3 separate regions of the Homo sapiens genome follow, and all the other regions are linked to region 2. The links come from fine-mapping of genetic effects on gene expression. A gene starts in region 2. Each other region holds a variant in brackets. All regions are shown on one strand. Distances are between the middles of the regions.

Region 1 (2,768 bases), 200 kb after region 2:
CCTTGTAGGTGCTGAATATTAGACCTTTGTCAGATGCATATTTTGCAAAAATTTTCTCCCATTCTGTAGATTGTCTTTTTACTCTGTTGATAGTTTCTTTTGCTTTTCAGAAGCTCTTTAATTTAATTAGATCAAACTTGTCAATTTTTGCTTTTGTTGCAATTGCTTTTGGCATCTTCATCATGAAATCTTTGCCTGTGCCTATGTCCTGAAAAGTATTGCCTAGGTTGTCTTCCAGGGTTTTTATAGTATTAGGTTTTATGTTTAAGTCTTTAATCCACCTTGATTTAATTTTTGTATGTGGTATAAGGATGGGGTCCAGTTTCAATCTTCTACATATGGCTAGCTAGTTATCCCAGCACCATTTATTGAATGGGGAATCTTTTCCCCATTGCTTGTTTTTGTCAGGTTTGTCAAAGATCAGATAGGTGTAGGTGTGTGGCTTTATTGTTGTGTTCTCTATTCTGTTCCATTGGTCTATGTATCTCTGTTTTTGTACCTGTACCGTGCTGTTTTGGTTACTGTAGCCCTGTAGTATAGTTTGACCAGGTAGTGTGATATCTCCAGCTTTGTTCTTTTTGTTTAGGATTGCCTTGGCTATGTGGGCTCTTTTTTAGTTCCATATGAATCTTAAAATAATTTTTTCTAGTTCTGTGAAGAATCTCAATGGTAGTTTAACAGGAAGAGCATTGAATCTATAAATTGTTTTGTGCAATATGTCCATTTTAACACTATTGATTCTTCCTATCCATGAGCATGGAATGTTTTTCCATTTGTTTGTGTCATCTCTGAGTACTTTGAGTGGTGTTTTGTAGTTCTCCTTCTAGAGATTGTTCACCTTCCTAGTTAGCTGTATTCCTAGGTATTTTATTCTTTTTGTGGCTATAGTGAATGGGATTATGTTCCTGATTTGTCTCTTGGCTTGACTGTTGTTGGTGTATAGGAATGCTAGTGATTTTTGAGCATTGACTTTGTATTCTGAGACTTTGCTGAAGTTGTTTATCAATTTAAGGTTTTGGGCTGAAACTATGAGGTTTTCTACATATAGAATCCTATCATCTACAAACAGGGATAGTTTGACTTCCTCTCTTCTTATCTGGATGGACTTTATTTCTTTCTTTTGCCTGATTGCCCTGGCCAGGACTTCTATTACTGTGTTGAACAGGAGTGGTGAGTGAGGGCATCTTTGACTTGTGCCGGTTTTCAAGGGGAATACTTCCAGCTTTTGCCCATTCAGTATGATGTTGACTGTGGGTTTGTCATATATGGCTTATTATTTTGAGGTATGTTCTTCCAATACCTAGTTTATTGAGTTTTTTTTTAAACCATGAAGTGATGTTGAATTCTGTCAAAAGCCCTTTCTGCATCTATT[G/A]AGATAATCATCTAGTTTTTGTCATTAGTTCTGTTTATGTGATGAATCACATTTATTGATTCGCATATGTTGAACCAATCTTGCATCCCAGGGATAAAGCCTATTTGATTGTGGTAGATAAGCTTTTTAATGTACTGCTGGATTTGGTTTGCCAGTATTTTGTGTAAAATTTTTCCATCAATGTTCATCAAGGATATTGGCCTGAATTTTTCTTTTATCGTTGTATCTCTGCCAGGTTTTGGTATCAGGATGATGCTGGCCTCATACAATGAGTTAGGGAGGGGTCTCTCCTTCTCAATTTTTTGGAATAGTTTCAGTAGGCATGGTACCAGCTCTTCTTTGAGCATCTGGTAGAATTCAGCTATGAATCTGTCTGCTCCTGGGCTATTTTTAGTTGGTAGGCTATTTATTACTGCCTCAATTTCAGAACTTGTTATTAGTCTGTTCAGGGATTCAATTTCTTCCTGGTTCAGTCTTGGGAGGGTGTATGTGTCCAACGATTTATTCATTTTTTCTAGATTTTCTAGTGTATATGCATAGAGGTGTTCATAATATCCTCTGATGGTTGTTTGTATTCCTGTGGGGTCAGTGGTAATATCCCCTTTGTCATTTCTAATTGTGTTTATTTGAATCTTCTCTCTTTTTTTCCTTATTAGCCTAACTAGTGGTCTATCTTACTAATTTTTAAAAAATAAACAGCTTCTAGATGCATTGATCTTTTGAAAGACTTTTCATGTCTCTATCTCCTTCAGTTAAGCTCTGATTTGGGTTATTTCTTGTCTTCTGCTAGCTTTGTCAACCCCTGCTTTGATGGCCCTCCCTGGGTAATCTAATGAACAATTACCTAAGTTGCTTCCACTTACAGGGTGGTGACAGATAATTAATGTCCAAACCCAATTTCAAATATCTTTTCAGCTCCAGCCCTGAATCTGTTTACTCACTAGTCCTTATCACTTGAGGGATTCTCAGACACCTTAGATCTAACACTTTCAGATGAGACCCTTTCCTGCAGAGCCTGCTCCTTCTCCTATGGTCTCCACTGAGTGCCTGGTACCACCACGCAACCACCCAACTGCCTATGTCAGGACTAGAAGCATTACCCTAGTTTCTCCCTAACCCCGGCCCTTATTCAATGCATCAATCACCAATCTCTGTGAACTTCATCTTCTTAGTATCTCTCATCTCAGAATACCTGGCCCTGCTTGCCGCCATTGTCACAGCATTTGATCAGGCCCTTATCACCTTTCCCTGAGACAACTGCAATAGAGTCAAAAGGTCTCGCTGCCTGCATCTCCAGTCAGTTCTTCATATTGAGGCTGGAATAATATTATAAAAATGCACATTATATTATTCCCTTGCTTTAAAGTCATCAACGGCAACCACGGTTCACAGGCTA
Region 2 (2,768 bases):
GCTGTCCAGGGCTGATTCCTGCCTTGCGCCCTAAGCTGCAGGGAGAGGCTCAAGCCACTGGAGATCCTGAATGGGAATAAGTGGGTTGGAGGAGGAATGAATGTATGGATGCAAATTATTTTCAAAAAAAATTCATAAAATATATGTTAATCACACAAATGCACAGCAATAGATGATGCTGTATGAAATTTCTCAGTGAGCCTGCTATATTTGTGGTGGTTTTGAACTGCATTGTGACAGGAGGTACTCCTTATAATTTTCCTTTTGCAAACATTTATTCCTTGATTGAATCCACCACCACTACAGCTGCCCTCACTCACTGATTCACCAAAAATTGGGTCCATGATTATCTTGTTTTTATTAATCTTTCTTAAATGCATGTGTAGCTGACATTTATTTCCATGTTTAATATTAGAAGTGTTTTAATCTTATTTAAAAGTTTGGTGATGTCTTTGTGACCAGAAATAGACTGTAGTCACTTAACCTTGTTTTTATCAATTAGTCGATGGTAAAATTGGTTTTAAAGTCACAGTTTCCATGAACCTATCTGTGACGTTTTAAGTGAGGACTTACTGTATATAGTGCTTCTTAGTGCTGAAACAGGCAGCGTGTCTGGAAATTTTGTTTGGTACCACAAGTAACACAAACAAACTTTCCCAGGCTCTTCCTTATTTAGTATGTTTTTATGTGGATGAATGTTATGGAAAACAAAAGTATTATAGGAAAATTAAAATGTCCTTTTTGTACATTTTTGGCAGATTGTATTCAGATTTAAAACATTTAAATATTTGGAATATACAAAATCTGCTTTTATATTGGACCACCCAGATTCATGACATGGGATGACAAACTATAAAAATAAGAAACCTGTAGGTGACATTGTACATTTTATGCAGTTGACTAACTGTTGGGTTTGGGTTTAAGAAGATCAGCAGGTAGAAAGAAAACAAAACACGTTAAAATTTAACATACCCAAAACTATGCAATAGATGTAATTATAAGAATGTAGTTTCCAGGAGAAAAATTCATATTCATTTTCTCTCTTTCTCTCTCCCTTTCTGTCTCTTCTCTTCCCCTTTCTCTAAATATATGGTTCAGAAAGGTACTTTTCAGAGCTGGAGGTTTATTAACAAAAAGTTTGTGCTTTCTTTTGTTTCCTCTTATAGGAATAATTCAGCAGAATGCAGACAGAAAAGTAGTAATTTAACTCATTTTAACTCTTTTTTGTCTATTCCATTCATAAATGTGGCAAGTCTCAAAACATTTATTTGAGAGAATCTAATCCTCTAGTAGTTGAATTCCCAACGCTCCTATTTTAGGACGTCATTCATGGCGTGGAGATTAAACCTTCATGTGTCCTTTACTATTTACAGAATTATTAAATGTAAGTTTTTCAATCATACTTATACCATTAACTGCTTGGATTTAATCTGTTAGTGCAAGATAACTTTGGCTCTCCCTTCCGTCCTCCTTTCCCTTATCTCGCCCCACGTGAGGACATTCTCCTGTGTGTGAAGCTGCTTTCCTTTCCTCGAAGGTGGGCCGAGCAAAGGAGAGTGACGCAAGAGTGGGCTGTGTCCTGGATGCTGCGAGCGCCTCTGCCTCCTTGAGAATGAGCCCATTAGCCGCACAAATTCGCAGCAGGCGGCTGGGGCGGCGGCTGGGGCAGCGGCTGCAGCAGCGGCGGACGCTCTGCATTACCCAGTCTTGCGTCCTCGGCAGGCGCCCGAAGCTGAGTGCGCATCCTCTACCGCACCCAAGCTTCGTCTGTCTCGTCAAGCTCTTCATGCTGCCCAACTAAAAGGAAAACATGGGCACAGGGGATTTTATCTGCATTTCCATGACTGGAGGGGCGCCCTGGGGGTTCAGATTGCAAGGTGGCAAGGAGCAGAAGCAGCCCTTACAAGTTGCAAAGGTAGGACCTGAACGAAGTGTCACGGCTCTGTGCTAGGAAGGAAGGAATGAAAGCAACCTGCTGATGGTGTTTTCAGGTTCTGATGCAGAAGTCTAAGTATTATTTGATTTTGCTGCGGATATTAAGATTTTTCTAGGAAGTGAGTTATTTTCTAAGAAACTTTGGAGAGTAATGGGCCACATCCTATGTAATTAACTTGCAATCGATGAGGGGTGGGTGGGAAGAATGCCATATTTATCAGCTGAGGAAAAGGCCTAGTTAACCATGTTCTTCTGACAACAAGCAAGACACTGGGGAGCGTTTCTTCCAGGCAATTTTAGAATGTTCAGTTGAGTTATTGTTTGATGTCACTTCACTTGGCTCTGGCAGAGGAGAAACGCTCAGTTCAGCATAACGACTTTGCTTGGCTATTTTGGGGACTCATATAGAGTGTTGGTAGTGACATTTATTATGCAGCATTCATGAAAAGGCCAATGTTGGGCAATAATTTTAAAAGTATGATGAAGTGTCATAAAATCTATTTAAAAGAATACCCTTTTAAGGATTTGACAAATAAATGCAAAAATCCAATAAATGCTGTATTCCTTCTTATGTACTCTTTTGGTCAAGATCTCAAAAATAAACTTAGAAGATAATCTAAATATATTATGAGTAACTAAGAGGTAACTTTGTAACACATTAATAACTATTTAAAATGCTTTAAGTTTTTATTGCCATTAGATTGCCTGCATTACTGGTTAGCCCAAGGGGATCTGGTATTCTCTAATTGGCATTCAGCTAAAATAAAACTTAAAATGCACAAAACTAAGCAAACTTTTACCTAACCTTATCATCAAATTGCAAATTATAGTAT
Region 3 (2,768 bases), 140 kb after region 2:
CAGAAACACTACGCACAGTTACCCCTCTGCTAATCATTCAGTATGATTCTGTTCCGGGATGAAAATGAACTCACTATGGCCAAAATCTTGAGACAACAATGGAAATCTAGCATTATTCTTATAATCTAAATATTTACCCATCAAACTCAGTGTTTAAGGCCTTAGAATCCTTCCTTCATGTTATGAAGAGAAAATAAGTTTATAAAATACATAATTTACTAATACATAATTAAATTTATAAAATAAAAAAAATTACAAAGTAAGTAACTAATTGGTAGGATTCAAAGTGGAATCTCAATTGAAAATCAAGTCAAAAGCAATTATTATCATCACCACCACTACCACTATTTTAAATATCTGAATATTGTTTCCTGCAATAAATATTTCTGTCACTCATATCACTGTCATCTATCAGTAGAGGACAAGTGTTTTTACTTTTCCTGAACTATTGCCCAGAGATAGCTCAGTAAGACTATTTTAAAATAACTCCTTTAACATTCCATCTCTATTATCTTGAATGTTCTTAAAATAAGATTTTAAAAATTCTATAATTGTGACACATAAATTGTGGACTTGATGAATACCTATGTAGACTGATGGGAAATGAATGTTTTAAGGCATAAAGCTTTATTCGCTCATGCTTTTATGATATTTACTCATGTCTATTTATTTTACTTCAGCTGCTGATAAATGTTAATATTTATCTGGCCATTTGTCTGTATTGGTCTACAAGGCTGGCATGAATTGAAACTATTCTCTTCTCAGCTTCACAATTGATTGCTAACGTTATTCAAAGTGATTTAATCTACTTCCATCCCAAGGCCTTCCTAAATTAAAACTCTCTGACCTTTTGGTACCCTCAAATTCAGTTTAACAATGTATTTAACATTTTCTACATAATAATGATCTAATTTGCTAACATCATGCTTTTTTAATACGATATTATAATGTTGTATAAATACTGTATTACAGGGAAGCTTTTCCAATTACTTGCGTATAGAGAAAGGTGCATTTTGTTTAACTGTTAGTTTGTTTTCATTTTGTTTAGTTTTGTTTTGCCAAATGCAGTTGAAAGCAAAGGTAGGAGTAAGTATTTTGAGCATTGGTCGGAAATTGCACTACCACATAAATTCTAAGGTAAATTCCTTTGAGTAGAATCCAAGTAGAAGCTCACGCCCTTCAGCTGACGTGCCTGCATGAGTCATAACTGTCTTTTAAGGAAGGAGGAAAGGGGCAAAGATAATTATGCTGCTTCCAAAATTAAAAAAAATACAAATATAAAAAATGAAGGCATTTCCTACAGCTGTTCTGTGAATAATACCTCTAAAAACATTTACAGTTTAAATTAGAGTTTCAGAAAGAAGTTATTTAACTCTTAAACTGACATTGCTTCTTCTCAGAAACCCAAATTTGCACAGACAACTGGGAAGATCAAAATCAAAGAGCTGTGGTGTACAGCTCTAGGCTCCTTAGCTGAGAGATAAAGGAACAGTTTGACTTCAGATATCCTAAAAAGAAAATGCTCCAAGAAACAGATCCAAATAGAAGAAAGGGAGACATCTCAGATTATAAATACTCCATGACTTAATG[A/G]TTCATTGCAGCACGGAAAGGATTTCTCTTTACGCAAGAGTACTGGGCTGGGTCCACTTATTACGAAACACATGCTCACTGGGGCTTAAAAAACAGCTTCTATTTCATTCCTTTCAAGAAAGCACAGCCTCTAAAAGGACTAGTTGAGTTATCTGTAAGTTAAGATTGATCTGAAGGTGCTGGATATGTTTATGTGACTTCATAATGTCTAGACCAAAACTTAGTCAATAAGACATTGAAATGCTTTGTCACATTCTAGCAAACTCATTATAAGAGATACCCAGATTCCAAGTACTTACAGATAAACGGGATCCATGTAGTTTTTTAAAAATAAAAGCTGAATTTAGGATGGATTCAGGTTTCATAATCTTGTGTAAGAGTTTCTTTGTGCTTTTAAAAAAGTTTATTTGGTATCTCTTTAAGTAATAATATGAACATGTTGCCACCTTCTGTTTTCAAATATGTTGCAACTGACATTTAGAAGAAAATATTTTGACTATATCACATATTAGACATCACAAAAGTGTCAGGAAGTTCTTTGGCAGATGTAACATAGTCTGATTTAAGTGTCTGGAATGATTTTTCTGTGTGCAGACCATCCAGTGGAATAAGTGAGGCTTTGATATCTGAAAATGAAAACAAAAACCTCGAGCATCTCACACATGGGGGTTATGTGGAAAGTACCACCCTGCAGATTCGACCGGCCACAAAGACCCAGTGCACAGAATTCTTCCTCGCCCCTGTCAAGACTGAAGTTCCCCTAGCTGAGAACCAAAGAAGTGGTCCCGACTGTGCAGGCAGCTTGAAAGAAGAAACAGGCCCGAGCTACCAAAGGGCTCCCCAAATGCCTGACTCCCAAAGAGGACGCGTGGCAGAAGAGCTGATCTTAAGGGAGAAGGTAGAAGCGGTACAGCCTGGGCCTGTGGTTGAGCTGCAACTGTCCCTTTCACAGGAGAGACATAAGGGCGCTAGTGGCCCTTTAGTGGCTCTCCCGGGAGCTGAAAAATCTAAGTCTCCTGACCCAGACCCTAACTTGTCACATGACAGGATTGTCCACATAAATTCGATCCCTACTAATGAGAAAGCAGACCCTTTCCTGAGGTCCAGCAAGATAATCCAGATCTCCAGTGGCAGAGAGTTGAGAGTGATCCAGGAAAGTGAAGCAGGAGATGCGGGAC

Alleles and levels. Alleles are on the strand shown, and positions count from the first base shown. SD is a standard deviation of normalised expression in the study named. Not every link is listed here.
For the expression in fibroblasts of the gene that starts at base 1,628 in region 2, G is the low allele of the variant in region 3 and A is the other (small effect, 0.21 SD a copy in GTEx).

The links. PIP is the estimated chance that this variant, and not a neighbour inherited with it, causes the effect.
Region 1: its variant is fine-mapped to the expression of SYNPO2 in subcutaneous fat (GTEx, PIP 0.97).
Region 3: its variant is fine-mapped to the expression of SYNPO2 in fibroblasts (GTEx, PIP above 0.99). The same link has a PIP of 0.9 or more in monocytes, monocytes after LPS, monocytes after Pam3CSK4 and monocytes after R848.

What each region holds. Positions count from the first base shown.
Region 1 is chr4:119,089,257-119,092,024 of GRCh38, forward strand. No RefSeq gene overlaps it. Among named protein-coding and RNA genes, the nearest start is that of MYOZ2, 45 kb to the right of the region's middle. The variant G/A (reference allele first, on the strand shown) is at 1,373.
Region 2 is chr4:118,887,227-118,889,994 of GRCh38, forward strand. It overlaps SYNPO2 (synaptopodin 2), which reads left to right and starts at 1,628. Exons shown (of 5, transcript NM_133477.3): 1 at 1,628-1,915. The coding sequence starts at 1,811.
Region 3 is chr4:119,024,443-119,027,210 of GRCh38, forward strand. It overlaps SYNPO2 (synaptopodin 2), which reads left to right. Exons shown (of 5, transcript NM_133477.3): 3 at 2,185-2,768. Among named protein-coding and RNA genes, the nearest start is that of SYNPO2-AS1, 41 kb to the left of the region's middle. The variant A/G (reference allele first, on the strand shown) is at 1,591.